Homo sapiens: one gene and its partners. The protein of the gene in region 1 interacts with the protein of each later gene in a biochemical or structural test. Each region holds a gene or a part of one and is shown on either strand. Other genes may lie near its edges.

Region 1 (8,773 bases):
GCCCAGCCAAAAAGAACTATCTTAAATGAGCCTACAATACCTCCAAACAAGTTAATTCAGCCCCTCTCCCCATCTTGCCATGACATTGGACAATACTGAGATCTCTATCCTTTGCTTATCATGGTAGAAAAATTGATCTCAGTAAACACGAAATGTGGGCCTCCAGATGAGATATTTTTAAAAGTTAAAACTAAATTAACAAACAAGATTGGACATGGTGGCTCATATCTATAATTCCAGCACTTTGGGAGGCCAAGGTGGGTGGATAGCTTGAGCCCAGGTGTTCCAGACCAGCCCAGGCAACATGGCAAGACTCCATCTCTACCAAAATATATGAAAATTAGCCCGGCATGTGCCTGTAGTCCCAGCTGACTCAAGAGGCCAAGGTGGAAGGATCACCTCAGCCCTGGAGGTTGAGGTTACAGTGAGACATGGTCATGTCACTGCACTCCAGCCTGGTGATGAAGTAAGACCCTTTCTCAAAAAAAAAAATTAGCTGAGTATGGTGTGTGTTCCTAGTAGTTCCCGCTACTGAGCTATGCTTGTGCCACTGTACTCCAGTCTGGGCAACAACAAAATAAACAAATAGATAATAAAGAGAATCCTGGGTTTGGAGAGTGGCTCCACCAGATACTAGCTTATGTCCCAGGTCAAGTCACTTAACCAAAATAAGAACTGGTTTTAAAAAAATAAAAGACTGCTACAGTCCCATTTAACTCTAAAATTCTCTGAGTCTTGCCCTGAATCCTTTATTAGACTATTGTGAGAATCAAACAAGATACTGTGTATCAAAGCACTGAGAGCCAAGACAACACATTTTTATAGTACATACTTTTAGACAGACATGGGCGGGTTCAAGATCTTGCTCTACTTACAAAATCTGTGACCTCAGGCAAATTACTTCACTTCTGAGCCTGACTGAACCAACACCGAGTCACAAGGTTATTGAGAGAATTAAATGAAACAATCTAACCTCAAATACTTTCTTTTTTTTTTTTTTTGAGACGGAGTCTCGCTCTGTCGCCCAGGCGGGAGTGCAGTGGCGCAATCTCGGCTCACTGCAAACTCCGCCTCCCGGGTTCACGCCATTCTCCTGCCTCAGCCTCCCGAGTAACTGGAACTACAGGCGCCCACCATCACGCCCGGCTAATTTTTTTTGTATTTTTAGTAGAGACGGGGTTTCACCGTGTTAGCCAGGATGGTCTCGATCTCCTGACCTCGTGATCCGCCCGCCTCGGCCTCCCAAAGTGCTGGGATTACAAGCGTGAGCCACCGCGCCCGGCCAACCTCAAATACTTTCTAGAACAACATGACAGATGACAGATAATTATCACTGACATAATTATATAAAAGACTTGGTTCATTATAGGTGCTCAATAAATGGCAATTACTTAAAAAGTCACTTGGAACTCTAACATGCTATACAATTCTTTTTTTTTTTTTGAGATGGAGTCTCACTTTGTCGCCCAGGCTGGAGTGCAGTGGCGAGATCTCGGCTCACTGCAAGCTCCACCTCCCAGGTTCACGCCATTCTCCTGCCTCAGCCTCCCGAGTAGCTGGGACTATAGGCGCCTGCCACCACACCCGGCTAATTTTTTGTATTTTTAGTAGAGACGGGGTTTCACTGTGTTAGCCAGGATGGTCTCAATCTCCTGACCTCGTGATTTGCCTGCCTCAGCCTCCCAAAGTGCTGGGATTACAGGCGTGAGCCACCGCGCCCAGCCTTTTTTTTTTTTTTTAAAGAGAGATGGGGTCTCACTACAATGCCCAGGGTGATCTTCTTGAATTCCTGGCCTCAAGTGATCTTCCCATTTCAGCCTCCCAAAGTGCTGGGATTACAGGCATGAGCCACCACACCTGGCTTACAATTGTTAATTTATTCTTATTGATCTATGACTTGGGGCAGTCTTCAAACTCTTAATTTGCCTCTAAATTCCTTAGGGAAAAAATTGAAAGGGAAAAGGGTGCCTATAATCCCAGCACTTTGGGAGGCCGAGGTAGGCGGACTGCTTGAGCAGGAGTTTGAGACCAGCCTGGCCAACATGGTGAAACCCCATCTCTACCAAAAATACAAAAATTACCTAGGCGTGGTGGAGCACATCTGTAGTCCCAGCTACTCGGGAGGCTGAGGTGGGAGAATCACTTGAGCCTGGGATGCGGAGGTTTCAGTGAGCCAAGTGACACTGCATTCCAACCTGGTTGAGAGTGAGACCCTATGTGGAAAAAAAAAGAGAGAGAGAAAGGAAAATGGGTAAGGGTAAAAGGGAAGTTTACAGAGTAGAGGTGAGAGAAGTGATTAAAAGGACCAAGAAAGGGCTTTGTTCTGCATTAAGAACTATGAGTCTTCATGTTCTAAATGTTTGTCAGGCCAGAGGTTAAAGAAAAGAGAAATGCAATCAGTGTCTTGTCTCTGACTGGCAACAAAGTGCTGAGGGCACTTCCCTCCCTGAAACTGCTGGCTTTATTCTGTCACCTGCAGTAAAGCAAACAAACAACAATCACCACTTGGTTTCCTGTTGGCACTGGGACTGAAGAGGGTAGAGAAGGGGCAGATAAAGATGATCCAACTTGCAAAACTCTTTGACTGTGCCCTACTTTGCTGTTCCTCCTTGGCCCACCCCTTTTCCCAAACCTCACAAGTGTTTTTATACCCTGATTTTAGGACAAGAGTTTACAAAATTTCTTTCTTCTTAGACCCAAGAACTGGGAAAGGAGAATCGGGGCAGGTTTTTATCAGAATACCAGGTTACAAGGTGAAAGGTCGTAAACAACCGTGTCCAGGAGGACTCCACTTCAGAACATGCCTTGGCTACAGGCCTGGTAGGCAGCAGCTGCTGCCAAAGCTAAATAATTTTTTGGCATTTAAAGGAACCCAGGCATAACACAGAGCAACGTAGTCTGTAGTGAGCTCTGCAAATGGGAAGATACAAGGAAACCAGAGCCCAGAAGAGAAACTTAGAACGAGAGAATTGTCATAGGATTTTTTAAAACTCAGCAATTCAGTACTTCAGAGATGTGCCCACATAAATATCAAATAAATTGAAAGGGAAAAGGGTGCCTATAATCCCAGCACTTTGGGAGGCCAGGTAGGCGGACTGCTTGAGCAGGAGTTTGAGACCAGCCTGGCCAACATGGTGAAACCCCATCTCTACCAAAAATACAAAAATTACCTAGGCGTGGTGGAGCACATCTGTAGTCCCGGCTACTCGGGAGGCTGAGGTGGGAGAATCACTTGAGCCTGGGATGTGGAGGTTTCAGTGAGCCAAGTGACACTGCATTCCAACCTGGTTGAGAGTTGGATGTCTTAAGATGTCCCATATTACCACCACCCTGATCCATCACTAGCCACCATCTTTCCTATTCCCTCAAAATGTATGTAGTTAAGATTTAACAATATTTAACAATATTGACTATGTAGTTAACAATATTGATTCATATATTTGTCAGCATTTTGATGTTTGATAGTTACACTTTCATACCCATCAAACTAAACGTTCTCCCAGAAGCCACAATTTTGAACTTTTAAAATTACTTCAGTCAGGCCAGGCACGGTGGCTCACGCCTGTAATCCCAGCACTTTGGGAGGCCAAGGCGGGTGGATCACCTGAGGTCAGGAGGAGTTCAAGACCATCTTGGGCAACATGGTGAAACCCCATCTCTACTAAAAATACAAAAATTAGCTGGGCGTGGTGATGCATGCCTGTAATGCCAGGTACTCAGGAGGCTGAGGCGGAGAATCGCTCTAACCCAGGAGGCAGAGGTTGCAGTGAGCTGGGGTCAGGCCACTGCACTCCAGCCTAGGCAACAGAGCAAGATTCCACCTTAAAAAAAAAATTACTTCAGTCAGAGTTCCACCTCCTCTGCTCCCAGTAACTCAATCAATATTGTTAACCAACTGAAAACACCTCAAGCCTAGCTGGTTAAGTTTCTAGAACAGGGTGCCGCCTCAAACACACCCTAAGGATCAACATGTTCCTGGGGTTTAATGCATGTGTGTGTTTTCGAAGAGACTCATGATGCCTATTCTTGAGCTTGCTTAATATTGGGGTTGAGTTGTAACTCTCGTTAGCCTTAGAGTGTCAATCCAGCTAGGCTGTCTGAGGAAGGAAGAAGGCTCTTTAACAGCAATGAATATTGTTTTTTTTTTGCTGATTGGGTAGGGTTTCAATATACTTGAATGCTTCTTAATTACCTCCCCATCTCAATCTTGGGACATTATCTTCCTCTTTCCAGCACAAGGAATTAAATAATAATCTTCTGATACCCCAGCACAGATATAGGAAGGGTCTATGAATCAAATAAAAGGAGGAAGAATCCCTGCACTTTTGCATACAGGTTTTTCCTATTACATTTAAGAGTAAGTTCTCAGTACTCAGCTCCTAAAGCATCTCACAGCCAGCAGGGGAAAATCCATCTGACAGCTGGCCAAACGAAACCAACAAAGAATGAAGAGAGAGGGTAGGGTCTCTTCTGGCTTGAATTTATAGTGCTCTGTTGACCGATCTTTCTTCTCTTTTCCTTCTTACTGTTTTCTAAACCGTTTAGGGAAAAACCTTTGAAAATAGTTTTTAAAATTGTTCCTTCAAACAGGTGTGTGGCCATCTCTCCACTGAAAATTTGGATATAAACAAGAGGACTTTCTCACTTTTAACCAGATTTATGGATGTACATTTGATTTAGTGAGTTGGAAGAGGGGATGGAGACAAGAAAGAGTGAACATAACTGGAAAAAAGTGAAAAGAGTGAAGCATCCTTTTTTTCCCGCTTTTCCTTTTCCTCCAGAAGCAGGTAGGAAGTGGGAGATAATGAGCGCCTGGACACACCTCACTAAAGAGGTAATGAGGTAAATGGGGAACACAGACAAAGTGTTCCCCAACTTTGCAGGTAGAAATTGAAGAGATGACAGGATAAGCAACAGGATGTAAACACGCCCCTCCTATTTCCGTTCCACAGAACAGAGAGAACAGAAGAGAGGGTACAAGCTGGGGGTGGGTGACGAACAGCACAGGCACGCAGCCCCCAGCCCTAGCCCCAAGGGATTGGAACGGGAAGGAGAAGACATCGGTCCTACACACACAATGAGGCCTGAAAGTTCTCCTTTCCCTCAGAGACGGTGGTGTTTTTTATACTTAATAGGGATGCGGGGCAAGAGAAGGACAAAGGGCTGTTCCTGAACAGTAACACCAAGCATTCTGCGCTCCACAGCCCCAAACCTGAAAGTATTCTTGGAGCTATGGGATTTTCACACACTTGCTATTTATGAGCCAGGAATAACGACAGGCTCTAAAGTAACTGCACTGGCTAAGACTAGGCATGAAATTCCCTCATAAGCACATTTTCCTTTTACCTCAAAACACCGCTCTCAGACCAGAAACGTCCACACCCGCCCTCCGATGGCCTGTCGCCCTGGCTAGGTTTTAGGGTCAGTGGGATCCTCCTTCCACTGGACCCGGGAGAAGACGCTCAACAGCCCCCTCCTTCCCCTCCTTCCTCTCCTTCCTCTCCTTCCCCCCTCCCTGCGCCGCTCCAGAGCGCAACAACCATTTTCCCAGCCAGGAGCACACCGTGTCCACGCGCCACAGCGATCTCACTGATTGGTCGGGCTCCTGGTAAACAAGGACCGGGCAGCCAATGGGAGGGATGTGCACGAGGGCAGCACGAGCCTCCGGGCCAGCGCTCGCGTGGCTCTTCTGGCCCGGGCTACTATATAGAGACGTTTCCGCCTCCTGCTTGAAACTAACCCCTCTTTTTCTCCAAAGGAGTGCTTGTGGAGATCGGATCTTTTCTCCAGCAATTGGGGGAAAGAAGGCTTTTTCTCTGAATTAGCTTAGTGTAACCAGCGGCGTATATTTTTTAGGCGCCTTTTCGAAAACCTAGTAGTTAATATTCATTTGTTTAAATCTTATTTTATTTTTAAGCTCAAACTGCTTAAGAATACCTTAATTCCTTAAAGTGAAATAATTTTTTGCAAAGGGGTTTCCTCGATTTGGAGCTTTTTTTTTCTTCCACCGTCATTTCTAACTCTTAAAACCAACTCAGTTCCATCATGGTGATGTTCAAGAAGATCAAGTCTTTTGAGGTGGTCTTTAACGACCCTGAAAAGGTGTACGGCAGTGGCGAGAAGGTGGCTGGCCGGGTGATAGTGGAGGTGTGTGAAGTTACTCGTGTCAAAGCCGTTAGGATCCTGGCTTGCGGAGTGGCTAAAGTGCTTTGGATGCAGGGATCCCAGCAGTGCAAACAGACTTCGGAGTACCTGCGCTATGAAGACACGCTTCTTCTGGAAGACCAGCCAACAGGTAAGCGGCCCAATTCATTGTTGGAGGGTGAAAGCTGATTAGAGAAGAGAATTGAATACACAAAACCTGTACGAAATGTTTTAAGTTGCTCAGTTTGAGTGGTTTGAATTACGTGTTGTTGCTTCCTTTTTTCTGTTTTAATTTGCAGACATTCTCCTCCCCCCCCAAAAAAAAGGGTGATTTGTACAATTTTTTATGGTGCTGTGTCCTAAAGGGGATCCTGAGGGGCGTTGCCTCGGGTAGTTAAAGTCTTATGTGTGCATAAGTTGCTTATTCTTTGTCTACTTCCTATTTGAGATGTTAGTAGAGAACTGTCCTGGGTGAATCTTTCAGTATTGCAGGGCTTGGCAACTTGCTGCCCGACAAAATACATCAGAATTTCTCTTTAAGAACAATATGGGATGGATTAAAAAATATATATATGGGATGAAATTGGGGGTACTTCAATACCTTGCATGCCACCCAAGCATTCCTTATCACACAGATGCATTTTAAGTGTAACAGCAAGCCTAATGGCTACTCGATTTTCTTTCCCTTCAGGTGAGAATGAGATGGTGATCATGAGACCTGGAAACAAATATGAGTACAAGTTCGGCTTTGAGCTTCCTCAGGGGTAAATATCAGCTAAATGCATCTTTGAACTTTTCTGTCTAAAATATCTTGCCCTCCTTTGATCACTTACTGTTCTTGGAGAGCGTTTTAAAATTTTCATTTTCTTGACACAGGCCTCTGGGAACATCCTTCAAAGGAAAATATGGGTGTGTAGACTACTGGGTGAAGGCTTTTCTTGACCGCCCGAGCCAGCCAACTCAAGAGACAAAGAAAAACTTTGAAGTAGTGGATCTGGTGGATGTCAATACCCCTGATTTAATGGTGAGATCCATTTTAAAGATTCTATTCTCCTGGGTCATGAGGATGATAAATCAGACGTCTTGGGCATTAGATTGAAGCATCTCAAAACACCTTTTTATCCCCTTCTATATAGGCACCTGTGTCTGCTAAAAAAGAAAAGAAAGTTTCCTGCATGTTCATTCCTGATGGGCGGGTGTCTGTCTCTGCTCGAATTGACAGAAAAGGATTCTGTGAAGGTAAAATCCTAGTGCTTATGGCAGTTAAAACAGGAACTGGGTTTAGGGGCAAGGGCATGGGACTGGGGTAGAGGAAGTGTCATTAACTATACTGAGTATCAGTAAGTTTTCATCTTTCTCATTGCTAGGTGATGAGATTTCCATCCATGCTGACTTTGAGAATACATGTTCCCGAATTGTGGTCCCCAAAGCTGCCATTGTGGCCCGCCACACTTACCTTGCCAATGGCCAGACCAAGGTGCTGACTCAGAAGTTGTCATCAGTCAGAGGCAATCATATTATCTCAGGGACATGCGCATCATGGCGTGGCAAGAGCCTTCGGGTTCAGAAGATCAGGCCTTCTATCCTGGGCTGCAACATCCTTCGAGTTGAATATTCCTTACTGGTGGGTAGATGCAGGGTGGCTTCAGCAGAGAAATTGTTCATCTGTTACCACAGCTGTCTTGTTTCTCCAGACCTCTGGTGTAATAAACTGCCATCTTCCTTTCTAGATCTATGTTAGCGTTCCTGGATCCAAGAAGGTCATCCTTGACCTGCCCCTGGTAATTGGCAGCAGATCAGGTCTAAGCAGCAGAACATCCAGCATGGCCAGCCGAACCAGCTCTGAGATGAGTTGGGTAGATCTGAACATCCCTGATACCCCAGAAGGTGAGCCAGACCTAATGTCTTTTCTTTGTTTCTGGTCTACCTGGGTTTGTAAAATTGTGATGGTCCAGCATTTCTTGGGCAGGATTCTTATGTGGCCATATTTTCTTTTCTAGCTCCTCCCTGCTATATGGATGTCATTCCTGAAGATCACCGATTGGAGAGCCCAACCACTCCTCTGCTAGATGACATGGATGGCTCTCAAGACAGCCCTATCTTTATGTATGCCCCTGAGTTCAAGTTCATGCCACCACCGACTTATACTGAGGTGAGGATTGTCATCTTTACTGTTAAATTTGTCCTAAGCTTTCTATAAGAAGTTGACTTAGACGGATTGCTAAACTGGTTTGTTCTTTTTGTTCTTACCTGAACTGAAATAGTCTGTTTCTTTCTTTAGGTGGATCCCTGCATCCTCAACAACAATGTGCAGTGAGCATGTGGAAGAAAAGAAGCAGCTTTACCTACTTGTTTCTTTTTGTCTCTCTTCCTGGACACTCACTTTTTCAGAGACTCAACAGTCTCTGCAATGGAGTGTGGGTCCACCTTAGCCTCTGACTTCCTAATGTAGGAGGTGGTCAGCAGGCAATCTCCTGGGCCTTAAAGGATGCGGACTCATCCTCAGCCAGCGCCCATGTTGTGATACAGGGGTGTTTGTTGGATGGGTTTAAAAATAACTAGAAAAACTCAGGCCCATCCATTTTCTCAGATCTCCTTGAAAATTGAGGCCTTTTCGATAGTTTCGGGT
Region 2 (8,434 bases), about 100 Mb from region 1:
TTTATTTATTTTTTGAGACGGAGTTTCGCTTTTGTTGCCCAGGCTGGAGTGCAATGGCGCGATCTCAACTCCCTGCAACCTCTGCCTCCCGGGTTCAAGCGTTTCTTCTGCCTCAGCCTCCCGAGTAGCTGGAATTACAGGCATGTGCCACCACACCCAGCTAATGTTTTTTTTTTTTTTTTTTTTTTTTTTGTAGTTTTAGTAGAGACGGGGTTTCTCCATGTTGGTCAGGCTGGTCTCGAACTCCCGACCTCAGATGATCTGCCCGCCTCGGCCTCCCAAAGTGCTGGGATTACAGGCCTGGGATTACAGGCGTGAGCCACCACGCCCGGCTGTATTTTTAAATTCATGCACATGCAGTTTGATACTAACAGATGATATGCCTTCATAAAATAGAAATTTCAAAAGACAGATAGATACAAGACAGCAGTTATAGTCATTTTCCCCTCCAAATCTTGTGTAGATCATTCCATATACATTCTGGAATAAAGCCCTTCCCTTTGGAGACTGCTGATTTGACCTGCAAGCACAGCCTTTTTGTGCATGATGTTAGAGGCCTGGGGAGGTCATATCGCTTGCCTTTCACACAAGATCTGAAAACCAGGTGTGTCTGGCTCCAAAGCCTTGGTTCTGCTATGTTCCTCTTTGTCTCCTAGGAAATGGGAACTGACTTAACTAACTTCCCCGTGTTCCATTGTGCTCCTCTGTAACTCACAGTAATGAGCTTAGCTGAATAGGAAGTAGGGGACAGATGGAATCACCTTGCCTACAAGCCAGGGGTTCGCCCACGATCTCTCCTGGGCAGCACGCAAGGGTGAGCCCTGCCCCAGATGTCTCACCCCACCCTTCGTGAAGAACTTGTAACTAGCCTTGCCTATGCCCATCACTCATCACTTTTCTGGCCAGTCTCTACCTTCCAGAAAAGGAAAAATCAGAAATCTGCAGGCTTTCTCAGCCCCTTTGTGGTGCAGACAGCATAGTTTTTTGTTTTTTGTCTTTTTTTGAGACGAGGTCTCACTCTGTCACCCAGGCAAGTATCTTGGCTTACTGCAACCTCTACCTCCCAGGCTCAAGCGATTCTGTCACCTCAGCCTCTTGAGTAGCTGGAACCACAGACATGCGTCACCGTGCCCAGCTAAATTTTTGTATTTTTGGTAGAGACAGGGTTTCGCCATGTTGCCCAGGCTGGTCTCGAACTCTTGAGCTCAGGTGATCCGCCCACTTCAGCCTCCCAAAGTGTTGGGATTACAGGCGTGAGCTACCGCACCCGGCCAAACATAGATGTTTGCATATGTGGTTTTGAATCCCAGCTTAGCTTAGTTGCCCAGTTTTCATCATTACAGTGTCTAGGAATTCAGAAAAGAATGTACGTCTCTGTCCCCATAGATGCTCCATAAATATTTCTTGCTTCCTTGGACTCCCATGATGCCTTACCTGGGCTGTGGGTGACTTGTACCTGGGCCTTGGCCTTTATCCAAAAGCTGGCATTCTGGCAGTATGAGCTTTTGGGGAGTCAGGATGCTGGCCCATGGGTATTAAGTCAGGTAAATCATTAAAGCTCCCACTAACCCATTCTTCCTAGTAGGGGCTTGTTGGGAAGTGAGTAGGCATGGCACATGGGTGAGAGTGCCAGGCCAGGGAGGGTCAGCTCATGTGAGTGCCCTGCGCTGCTTTGGGCTTCTTTGCTTTGCTTTTTTGCCTTAGGCTTCCTGCCTACCTTTCTGAATTTGGGTCACCCTTGGGATAGTTTGAAAGGGACATTCATGTCCATTAACTCCAAGGGTCCTCACAACTGCCCTGTGATACAAGTTACAGTGACCTCATGGTCCAATAAAAAATGACTTTGCCAAGATCACACACTGAGCCTCCCACCCCAAGACATGCTGCCAGCCTTTCCAGGATGACATTAGAGGGTGGAAGGAACCCAGAGCAGGAGGGGCCTTCCAGCCATGGCCCAGCCCTCCATTTGACAAATGGGGAAATTGAGTCCAGAGAAGGGAAGAGATTTGTCCGAGATAAGGCTATCACAAAAGATTTGAGGCGTTCTATGGAGCTGTGTTTTGTTTTGATTTTTGAGACGGAGTTTCGCTCTTGTTGCCCAGGCTGGAGTGCCATGACACAATCTCAGCTCACCACAACCTTCGCCTCCCAGGTTCTAGTGGTTCTCCTGCCTCAGCCTCCCGAGTAGCTGGGATTACAGGCATGTGCCACCATGCCCGGCTAATTTTTTTGTATTTTTTTTTAGTAGAGATGGGGTTTCTTCATGTTGGTCAAGCTGGTCTCGAACTCCAGACCTCAGGTGATCCGCCCACCTCGGCCTCCCAAAGTGCTGGGATTACAGGTGTGAGCCACCGCGCCTGGCCTAGCTGTGTTTTTTTTTTAAAGATGCTTTCTTCTCCACATGCCTGTCTGTGCCATCCTCCACCCACCCCAAATGAGCAGGAATCCCCAGACACAGGACTTGCCATGCCATAGGAGCCTGAAAGTTGGATTAGACGTAACTTGACAACTGAAACTCTACTGTGAATGGAAACAAAACACTAGATGTTCCCACTAAACTCTGACCTTGAAGAAGTGGCTTTCCTTGGAGCCTTGGTTTCCTTCTCAGTAAATAGAGACTTGGCTACCCCCAGTGGATGTGGTGAGACTGGCCCCGTGCCCTAAATTAGAGAAGTGGCTATTTTAAGTGGAAAGACCCTTTGTAAGGCCAGTCTGGGTGTACAAATGATGTAAACAGCCCCAAGATGATCCTTGTCTAGTACCGAGCCATCCAGGGATTCGACCCTATTTGCCCCGGAGCTGGGCCAGCCTCAAATCCCCCGTAATCAGCTTGTGACTTCAAGGAGCTCAGCTTTGCCCAGTGCCTCCTGGTCACGGGGTGTCGGCCCAGAGCTCTGCTCAAGTACCAAGGGTACAGCCATCCAGCTCCCTGCTTCCCCAAGACTGGCAAAGCTGGGGAGGCCTGGAACAAAGAGGAAAGTGTGCAGTGTTGGCTTGGGGCCTGCAACCTCACCCCTTCCCCCACCTCACTCCTGGGCATAAAGGTGATAAAGCCGCTCACTCAGTCTGCAGTCTGGTAACCGACGTCCCCATGATGGCGGAGGCTGGGAGGCCTCCTGACCAGATTCATGGGCTCAGAGAGGCTGTGTCCAGGCCTGCAGGCCCAGCCCTGGCTACCCTAACAAGCCTCCAATTGTTACCTCTCTCCACGGGAGGGGTGGACTGGAGCCTGAGGCTCTGTCTTCCAGCCACCAGGCCTGGCAGTAGCTGATGCATAAACATTAGGGTTTTGCAGTAACTGAGCAGGGCTCCCAGGCCTTGAACCTGGGCAGAAAGAAGACAGCATCTCCTCTCTTTGTGACCACACTGACTTGCCTCCCTGAGGCTTCTGCACCCTGGAATGGGAGAGAGCTCTTGCCAGGCCTCAGCTGATGGAGCCTTTGGCTACTGAGGCCTCTGCTGGACAGGAAGTCTGCCTATGTCTCCTAGCCCAGTTTATCTCCCCCTGCCCTGGCATTTGGGAGTGGGGAGGAAACGGCTCCATCAGAAACAGCTCTACCATTGGACCTTAGGCCAGCCACACTTCTTGTTGGAGCTTGTGTCCTCAGCTGTACTGGGGATGAGAGCTAGCTGTCTGGGTCAGCGGCACTGAGGCTCCAGGGGAGCATGTGGTCTGTGCAGCAGGCTTGGGGAGTGCTGAGCAGCACAGATTGGGTTTCATAGCACAGTGGGAGCCCAGACAGGCCAGCTAGCCATAAGCACCTCTGCTGGAGGAAGAGGTGGACTCTCTTGGGCTGGAGGGCCCAGTTCAAGGAAAGAAACAAACAGCTACACTGGGCTCCTTGATCACCCAGCTGTGGCAGTTCTTCTTGAGGACTTCCTGCCCCTAGGTGGGGGCTGCCTTCAGCTCCCTGCTGCGTGTGATAACTTGGGTGTGGCCCTCACAGCTGTGCAGAAGCTATTCCCAGAGGGTTCTGGCCCCAGGTAAACAGATTCTGCTCTGGGCTCGCCTTGCCTCCATCCCACAGCCCTGTGTGCTGTCTGTGGCACAGCCTAGAGCAGCACTGCCTCGTGGCCCTGGCCCTTATGCGGCTGGAGCTGATCCTGAAGTCCAGTGTCCCAGCGGTCATGGCTGGCATCATCACCATCTACAACCTGGTGATGGAAGTCCTTATCCCCAACTCGCTGATCGACTGCATCAGCCTCTACGGGAATCTCCTCCAGCCAAGCGCTAGGCTGAGTGTGGGCCTGAGTGGCCCGGCAGCCAGCTATGTCATCAGCACTGTGGGGGACACAGTGCTGCCTAGAAGCCCGGGCTATTTGTGGGCTTGATCCTGATCCTCATTTTCACTGCATGGTCTCATTCTCTCCACAAAGTAGCCTTTGAGCCCACCAGCCACAGAATGTGATATAAAGATCACCCCTGCTTATTCCAGAATGAACAGCCTGAGACACATATCCCTTCAGTAGTTGGTCTTGTGAATGCAGTGTCCTAGTGCAAATGCCCATCATCTGTTGACCCCATCCTTGCCCCTGCCTGCCCCATGCTGTGGATATCTGGGCCCCCTCATCACCCATCCTGGCCCCCTGACCAGTGAGGATGCCCCCTCCCATCTAGGGTACTCTGCGTCTAAGGATGAATTCCAGTGTAATTTTCTCTCTTCTGTAGGTTTATTTATGGAAGATTGGACCTGTTCATACATCTGTGGGGCAGCCCTCCATCTCCCAGCTATATAAAGTCTCTAACCACAGTGTTGCATTGTGGGGTTACCATGTGGTCTGACACTTCCTTGCATGAACTACCCTCACTCCAGCCCTGGACAGTCCAGGGCCTAGCAGGCAGTGTGTGGGGCCTACCAGGTCCTGGCATCCAAGCTGTGTCCAATAAAGTTCTTAGATGTGACTGGAAAAAAAATTGGATTAAAAAAAAGCTTCAGAAGTTACAGAGCCAACTACAGAGAAGCATAATAAATGAAAGAGTGTCTTCTAGTTTTGACAGTTTGGTGTTTACCCTAAAGACTTCTCTTTGTGCATGTGTAGATACATGCCTATAAATAGAATATTTGTGTAGTTGGATCCCACTTTCTGCATAGTTCTTTGCAACCCATTCTGTTCACCAAACCAACCCTTAGAGGTAAATACTGGCAGTGTTTCTCTCTGCACATACAACCAAGTGCCACTATACAAGTTCACTAACTCCCTGTTCCTTACACAATATGTACATCCTATTGCTTTTTTTCCCCCCTGAACAATCTACCCTGGTACTCTTCATAACACATACATGTTATGTGAAACACAGATGTGTTTCATTCTTTCCAATAGCTGCATAATACTTCATTACAGGCATGTCCCACCATGATTAAGAAATAGCAGCCCCATCACCTTCTTCATACCACTCACCACCTGATGTATTACATGTATTTATTTTCTGCCCCAGCCTTCAACTAACCTATCAAGTTCCATAGGCAGGGATTTGGTATAGTTTTATCGCTGAATTTCCATTGACTAGAAGAGTGTTGGGAGCATGCATTCAGGCATAATCTTTCCTTAGCAATATCATTTATTCATAGAAGATCCTCTCTTATGGAGAATTAACTGAAGCTTAGAGGAAGAGACTTTTTTTTGAGACGGAGTTTCACTCTTGTTGCCCAAGCTGGAGTGCAATGGCGCGATCTCGGCTCACTGCAACCTCTGCCTCCCGGGTTCAAGTGATTCTCCTGCCTCAGCCTCCCGAGTAGTTGGGATTACAGGCGCGCGCCCCCCACGCCCAGCTAATTTTTCGTATTTTTAGTAGAGACGGGGTTTCACCATGTTGGTCAGGCTGGTCTTGAACTCCTGACCTCAGGTGATCCGCCCACCTCAGCCTCCCAAAGTGCTGGAATTACAGGCGTGAGCCACCATGCCCAGCCAGGAAAGGACTTTTTTAAGGTCACACAAGTGGAGGAGCTGGGACTTAAATGTGTCTGCTGAGAGTGACAGTGAACTTTGCATGTGCCCAATCTTACCAAATTAATGTTCTCTTAGTTGAATTATTGCCCATCTCACCACCAAATGTGTATCTTCTCAGGGGTGTCAGTTTCCCCAGGGTCCAGATCCTGGCCCCACACCCACACATGGCCAAGGAGCCATTTACATTTAACATTCCATAATAGGATGCATACCTTTTCGGTTATTTAGGGAGGATGTGGTTTTGCCTGGAAGGCTTTGAGAATGCTGGGCAGCTAGCTCAGGGGACGTGGGGCTTAAAGCAGAGGCCGATCAACTTTTTTCTAAAGGGCCAGATAGAGCGTAAATATTGTCAGCTTTGTTGGACATGTAGTTCTCGGCCTGCCACTCAGCTTTGCTGTTGCAGTACAAAAGCAGCTGTAGACAAATGAGTGTGGCTGTGTTCCAATAAAACTTTATTCATGGTCACTGAAATGTGAATTTAATATAATTCTTACATATCACAAAATATTAGTCATTGTCTTTTTTTTCTCCCCAGCTACTTAAAAATGTAAAACTCATTCTTAGCTGCCATAGTTTGCCAACTTTGGCTTATAGCAAATGCAGCAAAGTGGCCCAAAGGTTTCTGAGCCTGTGCCCGGGCTGTCTCAGCTCAGAGTGGGCAAGGCTCAGAGAGTTGCTTTTATGGAATTTGACCTACATAGAAAGCACCAGGTAGAAACCTTGTTTCCTTCAGGGACCAGTACCCGGAAACAAGGGGGAGGACCTAAGCAGGAAAGCCATAGAATTTGGCATCAGAGACCCCCAATTGGAAACTTCCCTGAAGCCTAGAGTCCCCTGGTTCTGCGCTTTTCCCTCTCTCTCATTTCTCATCTGTGAAAAGGGAGTAATCGCTCCCCAAAAGCTTGTTCATGGTGGTTAATCAGAATGTGTGAGCAGCCTCTGGCAGGGTGCCTCAGCTCGCTGCTGCTGCTGCTGCTAAATGCACCAGCCCCCTCCTCTCAGTTCTACTTTGAAGACTGGCGAGTGCCTTCTGCCTCGAGGGCAACCAGGGGTGTCTGGAGGTTCAGTCATGCAAGGGTCTTGATATCATTGGAAGGCTTAAAGGAAGTGGCTTCAGGAGCACTTAATGCTTGAGGTCACCCTAAGGTCAGGTTTTGGACTGTTAGTCCATCACTCTTCTTTTTTAAAAGGCTTGGCAGGATGGAACCGGTCAGAGGGTAGAATGCCAGGCTAGGAAACCAAACAACTCTAGTCCCAACCCTGGCTTTTGTTTGTATGCTAGGCTGGGCACCTGCCCTCTGACCTCAGGTGCCTCCTGTCAAGTGCCGATGTTACAGCAGTCTGCAATTTCTTGAGCTTCTTTCTTTCTTATTGCAGCCAAAGCTGTCTTATTTTTTTTTCTTTTGAGAGTGTCTCACTCTGTCGCCCAGACTGGAATGCAGTCGTGCAATATCTGCTCACTACAACCTCCGCCTCCCAGGTTAAAGTGATTCTATTCTCCTGCCTCAGCCTCCCAAGTAGCTGGGATTATAGGCATGTGCCACCACACCCCACTAATTTTTGTACTTTTTTTTTTTTTTTTTGAGACAGAGTCTTGCTCTGTCGCCCAGGCTGGAGTGCAGTGGCGCGATCTCAGCTCACTGCAAGCTCTGCCTCCTGGGTTCAAGCCATTCTCCTGCCTCAGCCTCCCGAGTAGCTGGGACTACAGGCATGCGCCACCATGCCGGGCTAATTTTTTTTTTGTATTTTTAGTAGAAACGGGGTTTCACCGTGTTAGCCAGGATGGTCTCGATCTCCTGACCTCGTGATCTGCCCGCCTTGCCTCCCAAAGTGCTGGGATTACAGGGGTGAGCCACCGTGCCCGGCTCCAACTTTTCTATTTTTAGTAGAGACAGGGTTTTGCTGTGTTGGCCAAGCTGGTCTGGAACTCCTGGCCTTAACCAATCCGCCCGCCTCGGCCTACCAGAGTGCTGGGATTATAGGTGTAAGCCACCGCGCCCAGCCTTGAGGTTCTTTCTTTTAATGCCCAGAAGTTCATTTAAATGAGTAAGAAACACAACAAAACAAATTAAAAGGGAGCTGTCATGGATTCAGGTAAACCCCTCCCCCACTCCTTTGAGCCGTGGACTAAGCAGTTGGAAAGCCCTGCGTCCCCTGCTTCCCTGCACCTGGGGAACCCATGTGGGATGCTGTGGGAAGAGGACAAGATGGAGCAACATCTGGAGTCTGCCAGCCCTGGGACCCTCCTCTTGCCAGGAATACCCTGCCTCTGAGTAGCAGTAGCCACGTGCCCTTCCTGTGCCAATATAGATTGAGAACCTGCTGCAGGCCAACCCTGGGGCTGGAGCGCAATGCTGACACACTGACATGGGTCAAAAGGCCACAGTGTTTGGCAAGTTATACAATGTGGCCAGGGCCATCTGGCATCCGAGCGTTGGGGGAGAGGTCCTGAATCTTAACACCTCATCCATGGCTTCCTGGGAGA
Region 3 (8,434 bases), on another chromosome or scaffold:
TTTTTGCAATCTACTTATCTAACAAAGGGCTAATATCCAGAATCTACAAAGAACTTAAACAAATTTACAAGAAAAAAACAAACAACCCCATCAACAAGTGGGCAAAGGACATGAACAGACACTTCTCAAAAGAAGACATTTATGCAGCCAAAAGACACATGAAAAAATGCTCATCATCACTCGCCATCAGAGAAATGCAAATCAAAACCACAATGAGATGGTAATCTCACACCAGTTAGAATGGCGATCATTAAAAAGTCAGAGAACAACAGGTGCTGGAGAGGATGTGGAGAAATAGGAACACTTTTACACTGTTGGTGGGACTGTAAACTAGTTCAACCATTGTGGAAGTCAGTGTGGCGATTCCTCAGGGATCTAGAACTAGAAATACCATTTGACCCAGCCATCCCATTACTGGGTATATGCCCAAAGGATTATAAATCATGCTGCTATAAAGACACATGCACACGTATGTTCACTGTGGCACTATTCACAATAGCAAAGACTTGGAACCAACCCAAATGTCCAACAATGATAGACTGGATTAAGAAAATGTGGCACATATACACCATGGAATACTATGCAGCCATAAAAAATGATGAGTTCATGTCCTTTGTAGGGACATGGATGAAGCTGGAAACCATCACTCTCAGCAAACTATTGCAAGGACAAAAAACCAAACACCGCATGTTCTCACTCATAGGTGGGGAATTGAACAATGAGAACACACGGACACAGGAAGGCGAACATCACACACCGGGGCCTGTTGTGGGGTGGGGGGAGGGGGGAGGGACAGCATTAGGAGATATATCTAATATAAATGACGAGTTAATGGGTGCAGCACACCAACATGGCGCGTGTATACGTATGTAACAAACCTGCACGTTGTGCACATGTACCCTAAAACTTAAAGCATAATAATAAAAAAAAAAAGAAAATCTAGACATTCCTATCAATGTCTAGATTGTAACATTTTTGAAAGCAAACAAAAAAAAAAGAAAAACACTATTTTGTAGCTTTAAAGTGCATTTCTTTTATTATGAGTTAAGATTCAATATTTTTCATATGTTTAAATTAAAGGTCACCTGTATTTCCTTTTCTGTGGACTATGTTCATAGTTCTGAACATTTTAAAATTAATTGGCTAGTATTATCATTTTCATATTGACTTAAAGGAACACTTTATGTATTAGAGAAGTCAGCTCTTTTTCATTTAGATTGCAAATATAACACTTTTTCCAGATTTGCTTTTGACTTTATTTATGGAGTTTTTCTTTCCCGTGCAGAAATGCTTAATTTTTGCATAATCAAATTCATCAGTCTTCCCTTTATAGCTTCTGGTTTCAAGTCATGCATAGAAAGGCCTTTCCTATTCAAATTATAAAAGGTTCTTGGTTTTTTTTCAAATTGTATAGTTTCAATTTTTATGTTCAAATATTTGATCCAATTGGAATTTATTTTGGTATAGGTATTAGGGAATCAACTTCAATTTTTCAGATGACTTCAGACTTGTCCCATCATCACTTACTAAGTAATCCATTTTTTTCATTCTAATTTGAAATGCCACATTTTACTGCATTCTTACATAAACAGGGTGTATTTCTGGACTTTGTATATTGTGCCACTATTCTATTAAGAGTCCATTTACATAAAGAAAGGAAACAACATTTTCTGGTTCAACATTACCAATTTCATGCCCAATTCATGGGCTCGGTACTGGGGATCAGATGGAGGAGGCAGCCTGTATCCACTCCGCCGGTCTGGCACAAACCTTTGTTGCACCAATTGTGCATATAGACATTTAGTGAATGTGACCTGGGCATCAAGACACAAAATACATGAGTCTTTTCCTGAAATTAAGATTGTGAATAACACTTCACAGTTAAATATAATGAGAAGTCCATTTATAAGCTTCATATTCATATGAAATGCAAAGAAGATTCAACCTATTCATTGCCTACTTGTTTTTAGTAACAGCTTTATTGAGATACAACTCACATACCATAAAATTTACCCTACTGCTGGCCAGGCATGGTGGTTCATGCCTGTAATCCCAACACTTTGGGAGGCCAAGGTGGGCAGATCATCTGAGGTCAGGAGTTTGAGACCAGCCTGGCCAACATGGTGAAACCCCATCTCTACTAAAAATACAAAAATAAGCCAGGCATGGTGGCGCACGCCTCTAATCCCAGCTACTCGGGAGGCTGAAGCAGGAGAATTGCTTGAACCCGGGAGGTGGAGGAAGTTGCAGTGAGCTGAGATTGCTCCACTGCACTCCGGCCTGGGCAACAGAGCAAGACACTGTTGCAAAAAAAATTTTACCCTACTGCCTACTTTTTAGTAATCGCTAGTAAAATTCTTATCATTAGTTACATTATACAGCAATTAAATGGCTGGAAGATAAAGATAATTCATTTTTTCTATTTCTGAGACAGGGTCTTGCTCTGTTGCAGAGACTGGAGTGCAGTGAGCAATCATGGCTCACTGAAGCCTCAGGGATAGGGTTTCACCATGCTGGCCAGGCTGGTCTCAAACTCCTGACCTCAGGTGATCTGCCCACCTTGGCCTCCCAAACCTCCTGGGGTCAAGCAATCCTCCTACCTCAGCCTCCGAAGTAGCGGGGATTACAGGCGCCCACCACCACACCTAGCTAATTTTTTTATTTTTTGTAGCGATGGGGTTCACCATGTTGCCCAGTCTGGTCTCAAACACGTGGGTTCAAGTGATCCACCTGCCTTGGCCACCCAAAGTGCTGGGATTACAGGTGTGAGCCACCATGCCCGGCCAAGAATAATTCTTAATTCTCTGGAAGAGATGAAATGTTTTATTGTTAAGAAGGAAATAATTAGGCTGGGTGCGGTGGCTCACACCTGTAATCCCAGCACTTTGGGAGGCTGAGGTGGGTGAATCACTTGAGGTCAGGAGTTCGAGACCAGTCTGGCCAACATGGCGAAACACCATCTAAAAATAAAAAAATCAGCTGGGCGTGTTGGGAGGTGACTGTAATCCCAGCTACTCGGGAGGCAGGAGAATCGCTTGAGCCCAGGAAGCAGAGGTTGCAGTGAGCTGAGATGGCTCCACTACACTCCAGCCTGGGTGAGAGAGTGAGACTCTGTCTCAAAAAAAAAAAAAAAAAAAAAAAAGGAAATAATTATAGAAATAGAAACATATGGTCAAAAATAGCTATAAAACATTGAGTATAAAATGGGGAGGCAGGTCTCTTGAAAATTTCCTTCACTGGGTGCAAGAAAAGAAAAAACGTGTATAGTTTGAGCATCCCAAATGTAAATATCTGAAATCTAAAATGTTCCAAAATCCAAAACTTTTTGAGTCCCAACGATATGCTCAAAGTTTTGAGATTTCAGAATTTTCAGATTTGGGATGCTCAAGTAGTAAGTTTAATGCAAATATTCCAAAATCCAAATAAATCTGAAATCTGAAATACTTCTAGTCCCAAGCATTTCAGATAAGGAATATTCAATCTATATTAACATGCTATGAAGAAACAGAATATTTCCTTTTTTTTCTAGAGAACAATTAAAATAATGTTTCATTCACTGAGCACTGAGAAATGTAAAAAGAAAAAAATAATAATGTTTCAACTCGGTTTCCAGTAAGAGAAACTAAATGACCAAGATAGAAATCTCACCGATGTCATTATTCGTGTTTCAGGCAAGAATGTCTTGAAAACACGACAAGCTCGCAGGTCAATAGGGTCTCGTAGGTAAAATGCCTGGACTGCTGCAGCCACCAATCTGGGGCGCTGCTTTAGCACTGCCACAATGCCAGCTGGAAGGAAGCAGTGTGCTCGATGAAGTGAGGCCTGAATTTTTTCTGGGTACCTGGGACAGGTAACATAATTACTTTCATTTTACAGTATATAAATACCTATAATTCTTATACCATTCACATTCTTTTTGACATCTCTTTGTTCATCAAGAGCAGTACGTAGAGAGTGACAAGAGAGATGAAAAAAGATACTGTATATACACTTAAGAATATACGAGAGAGGGAAAGAAAAAAGTAGGAAGAAATGGAAAATAAAGAAAAGGGATTATTGTAGCTCTATAAAAACAAAACAACTTTGGGAGGCTGAGGCGGGTGGATCACGAGGTCAGGAGATTGAGGCCATCCTGGCTAACACGGTAAAACCCCATCTCTACTAAAAATACAAAAAATTAGCTGGGCGTGGTGGCATACGCCTGTAGTCCCAGCTACTCGGGAGGCTGACATAGGAGAATCGCTTGAACCCGGGAGGCAGAGGTTGCAGTGAGCCGAGATCACGCCACTGCACTCCAGCCTGGGCGACAAGAGCAAAACTCCATCTCAAAAACAAAACAAAACAAAAATACCTATTATACTTTGGAATAAAGATAAAATCAGAGTTTATTCTTCTAAAAGAATGGTACAAAGTATGCTGAAGCTAAAAGAGATTTTTATTTTTTATTTATTATTATTTTTGAGACGGAGTCTCGCTCTGTCGCCAGGCTGGAGTGCAGTGGTGCAACCTCGGCTCACTGTAACCTCCACCTCCCTGCAACCTCCACCTCCCAGGTTCAAGTGATTTTCCTGCGCTCAGTCTCCCAAGCAGCTGGGACTACAGGGGCCTGCCACCACGCCCGGCTAATTTTTTGTATTTTCAGTAGAGACGGGGTTTCACCATGTTGGTCAGGATGGTCTCGATCTCTTGACCTTGTGATCCACCCGCCCTGGCCTCCCAAAGTGCTGGGATTACAGGCGTGAGCCACCGCGCCCGGCCAAAAATATTTTTAATATTGTTAATACCTGAATGGTGCTTAATATTTAATAGGCACCCAAATTTGAATGGATGAACGAATATGTAATTAGGCTAAGACCTTTCTTTTCTGAATAAAAGCTAAAGTTTTATTCAGAAACTGAATTCTGACATAGGTCAAAGAATCCCATATACAGACCCAGAACAACAGAAAAAACCTGAGCACCTTGTTTGTGCTCCATTAGGTTTCTACTTTTTTTTTTTTTTTTTTTTTTGAGATGGAGTTTCCTACTGTCGCCCAGGCTGGAGTGCAGTGGCGTGATCTCAGCTCACTGCAACCTCCGCCTCCCGGGTTCAAGCGATTCTCCTTGCCTCAGCCTCCAAAGTAGCTGAGATTACAGGCACCTGCCACCACGCCCTGCTATTTTGTTTTTGTATTTTTAGTAGAGATGGGATTTCACTATGTTGGCCAGGCTGGTCTTGAACTCCTGACCTCATGATCCGCCCCCTGCTCAGCCTCCCAAAGTGCTGGGATTACAGGTGTGAGCCATCGCTCCAGGCCCATGAAGTTTCTATTTTTAAAGGTCTCAAATTTTTTACCCATGGATATAGCTAATACTTAGCCACAATATCTAAGGTAAATAAATGCAAAAATATTGGGACAAGATTGTAACACTTCTGAATGGGAATTTAAAGATGTATCTGTTTCCTGATTTTAAAATCTGTAAGTTTAATTTACTAGTCTATTTCATAAAGAGGAATGAAGACAAAATGAAAATTAGCATTAATCTAGGTGAAAGGTATTTTATAGTCAAAGAAAGACTGATCAACTCCAACAGAGCTTTAAGGAAAACAAACAAAAATCAAAGAAAGACTGAACTACACGAAACCAAAAGGTTCCTTAATTAGCAATGAAAGTGATATTTTTCTTACCCTCTGATGCGCCTATTCACAGCAGCTCGTATAGATTCTGAAGCAAGTATTTTTTCTGAATGTGCTGTGATTATATTCAATGCTTGTGGAATTGTTGGGGGTGTGGTGGGTAACCAAGATTCTGCTCCAGATTTTCTTGGTGCAGGGATAATACACAATTCCCCATGGCAGAAAAATACCTGCAAACGGTACATTTCAATTTTCACAGTGGGCACTGGCAAACTGCAGGTACATATGAATGTAATGCAGCATGATTTCATCTCTATAAATTTTCTAAACTTGGGTATACTTACCCTATTGGTGCTATTTTCAGGATCCAGCCATTTAGGGAGAAAGTCAGCAGCTTCTATTAACAAGAATTCACCATCATTGTCTTCAATCCTAATGCAAGAAAATTTCCAATTTTGCATTCAAAAAGCATATATCTGCTAGTAACCAAAACAGTTTCATTCTAATACATTTTCCTCTTCATCTTAGTAAATATTTGAGTATGTACTATGTGCAGATGGCTATAAGAAAGCAAAATATTTAAGATAACATTAAGCACTGAAGGAGACTGTAAGATTGTAAGGAGGAGTTGAAGGTAGATATGATAAGGAGAGAAGATAAGCAATTTACATAAAGAAATATTAGACAAAAATATGAAAATATACGAAAGTACTATAGGGTTCCAAAAGAAAAAAAAGAAACACATAGCTGAGATTAGAAAAGCCTTCATGTAGGAGGTGTTATTTGGGCCTGAAAAGATAATTATTTCTGCCTCATTTGCATCACTTTTTTTTTTTTTATTTTGGAGACGGAGTCTCGCTCTGTCACTCAGGCTAGAGTGCAGTGGTATGATCTCGGCTCACTGCAACCTCCACCTCTTGTTTTCAGGCAATTATCCTGCCTCAGCCTCCTGAGTAGTTGGGATTACAAGTGCCCGCCATCATGCCCAGCTAATTTTTGTATTTTTAGTAGAGACAGGGTTTCGCCATGTTGCCCAGGCTGGTCTCGAACTCCTGACCTCAAGTGATCCGCTCACCTCAGCCTCCCAAAGTGCTAGGATTACAGGTGTGAGCCACCACGCCCGGCCCGTATCACTTTTTTAAATTTAATTTTTTAAAATAGGTTATACATTCACATGGTTACATTTTTTAAAAAAATGTATTAAAAGTTACATGGCCAGGTGCAGTGGCTCACGCCTGTAATCCCAGCACTTTGGGAGGCCGAGGTGGGCGGATCACCTGAGGTCAGGAGCTCAAGACCAGCCTGACCAACATGGAGAAACCCCGTCTCTACTAAAAATACAAAAAAAATCAGCCAGGCGTGGTGGCCCATGCCTGTAATCCCAGCTACTCGGGAGGCTGAGGTAGGAGAATTGCTTGAACCTGGGAGGCAGAGGTTGCGGTGAGCCGAGATCGCACCATTGCATTCCAGCCTGGGCAACAAGAGCGAAACTCCATCTCAAAAAAAAAAAAAGTTACAAAATAAAAAAGTCTCCCTCCTACTTTTGTCCCTATCTGCTCAACCCTACATGCATCACTGCTGTTTCTTGTATATCCTTCTAGAGTTTGCTTACACATAATCTAACTATAGAAATATATACTTGTATTTTCTCCCTTTTTTACACAAGACATGGCATATTTTATATACTGTTATATATCGTTCTAGCTCTATACTTCTATTTTTATTATTTTATTTTATTTTATTTTATTTTATTTTTGAGACAGAGTCTCACTCTGTCGCACAGGCTGGAATGTAGTGGTGCAATCACACTCACTGCAACCTCTACCTCCTGGGCTCAAGTGATTCTCCTGCCTCAGCCTCCCGAGTAGCTGGGACCACAGGCATGGGCCACCACACATGGCTAATTTTTGTATTTTTAGTAGAGATGGGGTTTCACCATGTTGGCCAGGCTCGTCTCGAACTTCTGACCTCATGTGATGCTTCCGCTTCGACTTCCCAAAGCGTTGGGATTACAGATGTGAGCCACCGCCCCAGGCCTACAATGTATTGTGTTCTTGAAACTTGCTAAGGCAGTAGATTTTAAATGTTCGCACCACACACAAAAAAATAAGTATGTGAAGTAATGTACGTTATGAGCTCAATTCAGCCATCCTACAATATATATGTATTTCAAGACAACATGTTATACATAATAAATATATAAAATTTTTATTTATCAATTTTAAAAATAGGCTGGGCGCAGTGGCTCACACCTGTAATCCCAGCACTTTGGGAGGCTGAGGCAGGTGGATCACTTGAGGTCAGGAGTTTGAGACCAGCCTGGCCAACATGGTGAAACCTTGTCTCTACAAAAAATACAAAAATTAGCCAGGTGTGGTGGTGCACGCCCATAGCCCCAGCTACTCAGGAGGATGAGGTAAGAGAATTGCTTGAGCCCGGGAGGCAGAGGTTGCAGTGAGCCGAGATTGTTCCACTGCAGTCCAGTCTGGGCAAGAGAGTGAGAGCCTGTCTCAAAAAAATAAAATAAAATAAAATAGAGCACAGTGGCATGTGCCTGTAGTACCAGCTGCTTGGGAGACTGAGGCAGGAGGATGGCTTGAGCCCAGGAGTTCAAGTCCCGCCTGGGCAAAATAGTAAGACCCCGTCTTTAAAAAACTAAATAAATAATAAATAAATTTAAAACATTTAAAAATTTTAAATAAATTTATTTAAAGATAAAAATAAAATGAGTTATCGCTTAGATTTACATCCTGAAATATTTAAGGATCAAATGACAGCTACAGATGAAATAATAATGACCATGAGTTGGTAATTGTTG
Region 4 (5,891 bases), on another chromosome or scaffold:
TGGCTCACACCTGTAATCCCAGCACTTTGGAAGGCCGAGGTGGGAGGATCGCTTGAGCTCAGGAGTTCGAGACCAGCCTGGGCAACATGGTGAAACCCCATCTCTACAAAAAATACAAAAATTAGCCGGGTGTGGTGGCACACACCTGTAGTCCCAGCTACTCTGGAGGCTGAGGTGGGAGGATCACTGGAGCCGGGGAAGTCAAGGCTGCAGTGATCCATGATCACACCACTGCACTCCAGTCTGGGTGACACAGTAAGACCCTGTCTCAAAAAAAACAAAAAAAAGATCAAAAAGTGCAAGAAGAGGAAACAGTAGATTTTGTATAACAAAGTACAAAGTGTTCTTTGACTTGATTTCAAACCCATATTGTGCATTCCCTTGTCAAATTTAGTATCAAAGAATAATATCCATAATTACCTGACAAGATGAGTAATCTCCATTTCTAACTATTTATCTGTGTGGGGCTATAGATTAAATGTACAACTAGATATCAAAATCCATATGTTTTCTATTACACCAGATATTTAAAAGATTTCCAAAACTAAAACAAAATCACTCTTTCCACTATTTTTTTTGGAAGTAGTTGGGTTTTTCCCATTAAAATGTTATGTTTATTTTCATATCAAAGTGAATTAATATTTTTTAAACTTCTGTTTTAACTTCTAATCCAGTAAATATCAGTAGCTATAATTCATATAAATAAAAGCTCTTTGCAGTTGGAAATCCATTTTTTTTTTCCCAAGATAGAGTCTTGCTGTGTTACCTATGTTAGAGTGCAGTGGCACAGACACAACTCACTGCAGCCTCAACCTCCTGGGTTCAAGCAATCCTCCTGCCATAGCCTCCTCAGTAGCTGGGACCACCAGTGCACGCCACTATGCCTGGCTAATTTTTTAATTTTTTGTAGGGACAAAGTTTTGCTGTGTTGTCCCAGGTGGGTCTTAAACTCTGGGCTCAAGCTGTCCTGCCTTGGCCTCTGAAAGTGCTGGGATTATAGGCATGAGCCACTGCTCCCAGCCAAGGTTGACAGTATTTTTAAGAGTGAAAAGGAGTCCTGTGACCAAAATTTGAAGACCTCTGCCTTCAATAAAAGTGATAGATCCATATGTATACACACATGCGCGCGCGTGTGTGTGTGTATTGAGAGAGAGATTTTTGAGTCAAAGGGAGAATTAAAATAGATTTCAAATTTTGTGAAAGGAAAGTAATTACCACCCACTGATTTCTGTTTTCTCAAAGTATAAGGAGAAGTCACTGGCTAAGAGTGAAGAAAGGAAAAACTTTTGAGAGAAAGAAGGAATTGGGAGAATTGTTAGAGAATAGGCAAGTATTCATTAGAGGAACACGGCTAAGATTGCTAGGCAAAATTGGATTGCTCACTTGGATTAGAGCATGAAACAAGTTGACAGCAAAGAGCATAAGCTTCCTTTCCCCACCACAGCCCCCTCCCCACCCATAGCAACTCGAAAGCAGCAAAAGTTTTTGAAGAGTGGCATAAACTGGTATGTCTTTTTAGCAAAAAGTAAAAAAGAAACAAAACAAATAGACCCAAAGAATTCTCTGATGGTCCAGGTAAGAGATGATGGGGAAGCATATACAAAGGGATGTAGTGGCAGTAGAAATGATGAGGAGGAGCCTGGGCAACATGACAAAACTTCGTCTCTACAAAAAAAAATACAAAAGTTAGCTGGCCATGGTGGCATGCGCCTGTACTCCCAGCCACTCCAGGGACTGAGGTGGGAGGAGGGAGGATTGCTTCAGCCTGGGAGGTCGAGGTCGCAGTGAGCCGAGACAGTAGCCTAGGCGACACAGCCAGACCCTGTCTCCAAATAAATAATCAGGAGAAAAAATGGAATATTTGGTAGATAGAATGACAGAATTTGGCAAAGGCTATATGTGAAAGATGTAAGAGAACAGAAAGTGACTGGTTGTCTTGTATAGGAAGTATTAAAAAATAATTTTTTTTTCTGACCTTGTTATCATACTCTACCTTGAAGTATAAAGGGGAGGGCAGTATATGGTCTGCTTAGTTGCTGCTATTAATATCTTTAACTTCATTTAAAATACAAAGAATACAGTCTTAGAACAGCACTGTTTTATTTAGATGCCTTGTTTCAAAGGCTCTTTCCTGACTCTGACATGGGAGGGTCAAGGGCACATGGAAAGTGGTGACAGTGGTAAGAAGGCACCTGGATAATCTCTAGAAACCTTCCACATGGGAAAATGAAGGTACAGAAGGGTTCTGACTTACTCAGGGCTATCTCACTAGTCACTGCTACTGTAGGGACCAAAACCCTGAACACCCGAATCCTAATCTAGCTACTCAGTGCTGTACCTCACAAAACGAAATGTTATTCCACCTTTGTAAACTGAAAAATAATAGTTATTTTAAGCATTTTTTAGTATTTTAAAATTTTTATCAGTTAATACCAGAATGGAATTGAGTATGGCAAGATTGAAAAAGTGTCATTTTAGAAGAGTTTATATATGTGGTTAGATTATTTGAAAAGACAAAGAAACATATATATTTGTTAATTGACTGTCTCTACCCCAGAATGTAAATTCCATGAAGACAGGGATTTTAGTTTTCTTCACTGTATCACTAGCTTATCAGTTATATAAAAAATTCTCGGTAAATGACTGATGAATGAGTGACTGAGTGGATGAAAGAAATGGACTCTTATCCTAAGAGAAGTTAAGAGGACTCATGACACATGTAACAGGAATAGTAAAAAGAAAATGGATTTTTTTTTTTTTTTAAATTTGTCTTTATCCATATTGCTACACTTATTATTTGTAATTCCATTTTCCTCTTGGAGATGTTAAAATAGTTTTTATATGTAAGTCTTAAATTTAGATTACTCTAAATACTTCTGGCAAAATTTTAACATATATAGTATACATATATCCATTCAGCATTTCTATGTGCTTTGAAAAGTATTCTATTAGATTTTTTTCATTTTATTGAAAACATCTGATTTTGTTTTTGTTTCTGTTCAGTTTTAATCGCTTGGATCTACCACCATATAAGAGTTATGAACAACTAAAGGAAAAACTTCTTTTTGCAATAGAAGAGACAGAGGGATTTGGACAAGAATGAATGTGGCTTCTTATTTTGGAGGAGCTCTTGCATTTAAATACCCCAGCCAAGAAAAATTGCACAGATAGTGTATATAAGCTGTTCATTCTGTACAGTGAATTTTCCGAACCTCTCAAAGTATGTTTTCCGTTCTTCCACAGAAATATGCAAAACAGTTCATCCTTTTCTACTTTATTTATTGTTCCCTTGAAATGACTGACCAGGAAAAAGATCATCCTTAAATTTTGAAGCAAGTGAGAGACTTTATTAAAAATACATATATATCTATATAAACATATATGATAGTGGCTCTAGTTTTATAGAGCTCCAAGTGTATTAAACATGACAGCCATTCATTCATAAAGATCTGGATTTGCTTTACCTTGTTAATATTATCTAGGGGAAAAAGTGCAAATTGCTCCATGTTCTTCTCTCCCTTATGTAACATCTCCTGAGGGTGTTTAGTTGCATGGCTGTTCAGAAAGGTATTAAGGGCTTAGGCCAAATCTTACTTTGAGTATGTTAAAAAAAAAAAAATGCTGCTGGCTTTTCTGAAGACAGGTGCTTGAACTTGTCAGTTTGTTTTAAATAAATACAATAGTTGAAAATTTTTCTCTGTTACATCAGTAATATTGTTAAAGTAATGGATAGAACCATAACTTACACATGAAAGTCATATACTAGATCCAATACTATTTAGTTTATTATCGAAATTGGAAGGATTCATTGAGCAGCATAGAAGTTTGTTTACATGTTACTTTGAGATGCTAGGTATTTGTGGAATTAAAAAGAATCAGGCTCTTTTGTACTTTGTTTTTAAATCTGTGATGCTTTTCAAATTTAATTCATAATAAATTGATGCAATTTCATACTTAGGAACATACAAAAGGTAATGTAAACTCTGCCACTTTTTTGTGTTCAAAATTTTGGTTTTTATGAAGCCAGATGGATTGAAGAGTTACATAAGCATTTGAATGCTCTAATATAAGGCTAATGATTTTCTGTTAGTGTTTGAATATCTTCATTCCTCTCAAATTCATAACAGTTCTATTTAACTGAATTAAATAACCATATGAAAAATCTTTTGGGTCTCCCCCTTTTTACACAGATAATTATTTTTGTCATAACACTTTTTAATTGTTTTTCATCATAGGGGCCTTTGCTGAACTACAAAAATGTGTAACAAATTAAAATCTGATGTGAATGATATTAATGCTACTTTTAGCAAACTGGGCTTCCTAATACAAAATTTTAAATTTCCATTTGTATCATGCTTTTAATATGCACTGTAAATTTCATTAACTTAAACATTTTTTAATAGCCATGGAACTGACTTCTTAAAATCTGTTGCCTATAAATATTTCACTGCTAAGTACATACAGAAAAACAGTAATTATTGTTTTGCCAAAATTTTATTTTTCTACATATTGAGAGTGTGTTCTCCATTTTATTCAGAATTCATAGTAAAGACGAAAGAAAGGCAGAGATCTGCTTGGTTGAATAGACTCCTTTTCCAAATCCTTATTATGAACACTCTGGTAATTTTCAAGCCTAAAGAATTAAAAAAAAAATTCTAATGTATGTGACAGGTTATGTGATAGAGGGAAACTGGCCTTCAAAAAGGACTGCGTATACCATAAAAGAGTTAAGTATTAGAATTACAAATGGTACCACTGCTGTATAAATTTTGCCATGACAGAAGTTATTGAATATCATTCATTGTAGGTATGATTTAGCAGATTTGACTGAAGAAGGCAGCTTTCCAGTTCGTTTTCAGGGTGCTGGTCTCCCTCAAGTAAGAAATTACGATGCACTAGGTGAGGCTACACAGAACCCTACAAGAGACAAAACCAGCTTTGTTTTGGAGAATTCATCAGGGTCTTCCACTTTTCATACCCAATTATAGATATCCAAGACCTACAGGCAGAGCTCTTGATTTATCTACCCAGTAGCAGTCAGAAAAACTGTAGAAATATGGTCCCCCACTCACCTTCTCCCCTTCTTCCCTTCCCATTCCTGTTCTGTGCTGGACTAACCGAAAGAAATTAGGAGTGCAAGACTCTCTGTGCCCAAAACACAGTTCATGAGGAAACAGACAAGAGGGAGGCTCAGAGACAGGTTTATATTGCTACTTCATTTTGGTGACTCCCCCACCCCCACCACCAGTAAATGGCCCAGGGAATAGCTCACAGGCCCAATACAATTCTGTCTGTTAGATCAGTTAAGCAACACAATTCTATCTGTTAGATCAGTTTAGTTGTTTGTCTTCCAGGGAAAGCAGCTTACCAGTGTTTTTTTTGTTTGTTTGTCCCGCCCCCCCCATGTACTTCCCAAGTAGTTGAAAATGAAAAGGTTAACAAAACCTTTTCCCCTGATGACTTCTGTTAACTACCTAGCTCTTCCTACCCTGACAACTAAATAGGATGGTATGTGTCAACTGTATTTATTGCCATGCAGCTTTGCTTTTGGTAAATATGACCCTGACTGGTAAGTTGCATCTGGACTGGGAAATCTCCAGATACACGACAGAAAGCCACAGCTTTGGGCATACCTGAGTGGAAAACTCTTGTAACTGTATGTCCTTTAAGGAGGACCGTGAGCTGTCACCTGGGGAGATACCATTTCATAGATTGCTGTTAGAAGACCGTCTTCTGAGAGGAGGTTCAAAATTGTCCTGCTGGTGAGCTGTGTGGTTCCTGTCCTATAGCCTTCTGAGTAGACTGGTGCCAAATACAGCCTATTGTAGACTTATTAAGTCTGAATGTTTGGTTGAACCTAAGATGATGTGGTGGATGTTGCAGAAGTAAAA

What was found.
Region 2: the proteins of TXNIP (region 1) and SLC2A1 form a complex in vitro, tested with the Homo sapiens proteins (2 studies listed by BioGRID).
Region 3: the proteins of TXNIP (region 1) and ECD form a complex in vitro, tested with the Homo sapiens proteins (one study listed by BioGRID).
Region 4: the proteins of TXNIP (region 1) and WWP1 form a complex in vitro, tested with the Homo sapiens proteins (one study listed by BioGRID).

The regions. Positions count from the first base shown.
Region 1 is NC_000001.11:145,993,539-146,002,311, reverse strand, and holds the start of TXNIP (thioredoxin-interacting protein), read left to right. Parts: upstream 1-5,732; 5' UTR 5,733-6,045; coding exon 6,046-6,295; intron 6,296-6,567; exon of another isoform or gene 6,568-6,750; coding exon of another isoform or gene 6,751-6,835; coding exon 6,836-6,908; intron 6,909-7,020; coding exon 7,021-7,168; intron 7,169-7,280; coding exon 7,281-7,383; intron 7,384-7,511; coding exon 7,512-7,768; intron 7,769-7,874; coding exon 7,875-8,031; intron 8,032-8,144; coding exon 8,145-8,296; intron 8,297-8,425; coding exon 8,426-8,461; 3' UTR 8,462-8,773. UniProt on the Homo sapiens protein: May act as an oxidative stress mediator by inhibiting thioredoxin activity or by limiting its bioavailability.
Region 2 is NC_000001.11:42,948,166-42,956,599, reverse strand, and holds part of SLC2A1 (solute carrier family 2, facilitated glucose transporter member 1), read left to right. Parts: intron 1-8,434. UniProt on the Homo sapiens protein: Facilitative glucose transporter, which is responsible for constitutive or basal glucose uptake. Has a very broad substrate specificity; can transport a wide range of aldoses including both pentoses and hexoses.
Region 3 is NC_000010.11:73,150,608-73,159,041, forward strand, and holds part of ECD (protein ecdysoneless homolog), read right to left. Parts: intron 6,049-8,434; coding exon 5,961-6,048; intron 5,847-5,960; coding exon 5,668-5,846; intron 3,842-5,667; coding exon 3,649-3,841; intron 1,815-3,648; coding exon 1,686-1,814; intron 1,099-1,685; exon of another isoform or gene 1-1,098. UniProt on the Homo sapiens protein: Regulator of p53/TP53 stability and function. Inhibits MDM2-mediated degradation of p53/TP53 possibly by cooperating in part with TXNIP. May be involved transcriptional regulation. In vitro has intrinsic transactivation activity enhanced by EP300.
Region 4 is NC_000008.11:86,463,791-86,469,681, forward strand, and holds the end of WWP1 (NEDD4-like E3 ubiquitin-protein ligase WWP1), read left to right. Parts: intron 1-3,003; coding exon 3,004-3,103; 3' UTR 3,104-4,713; downstream 4,714-5,891. Other genes in the region: RMDN1 (regulator of microtubule dynamics protein 1), read right to left, coding at 4,886-4,917. UniProt on the Homo sapiens protein: E3 ubiquitin-protein ligase which accepts ubiquitin from an E2 ubiquitin-conjugating enzyme in the form of a thioester and then directly transfers the ubiquitin to targeted substrates.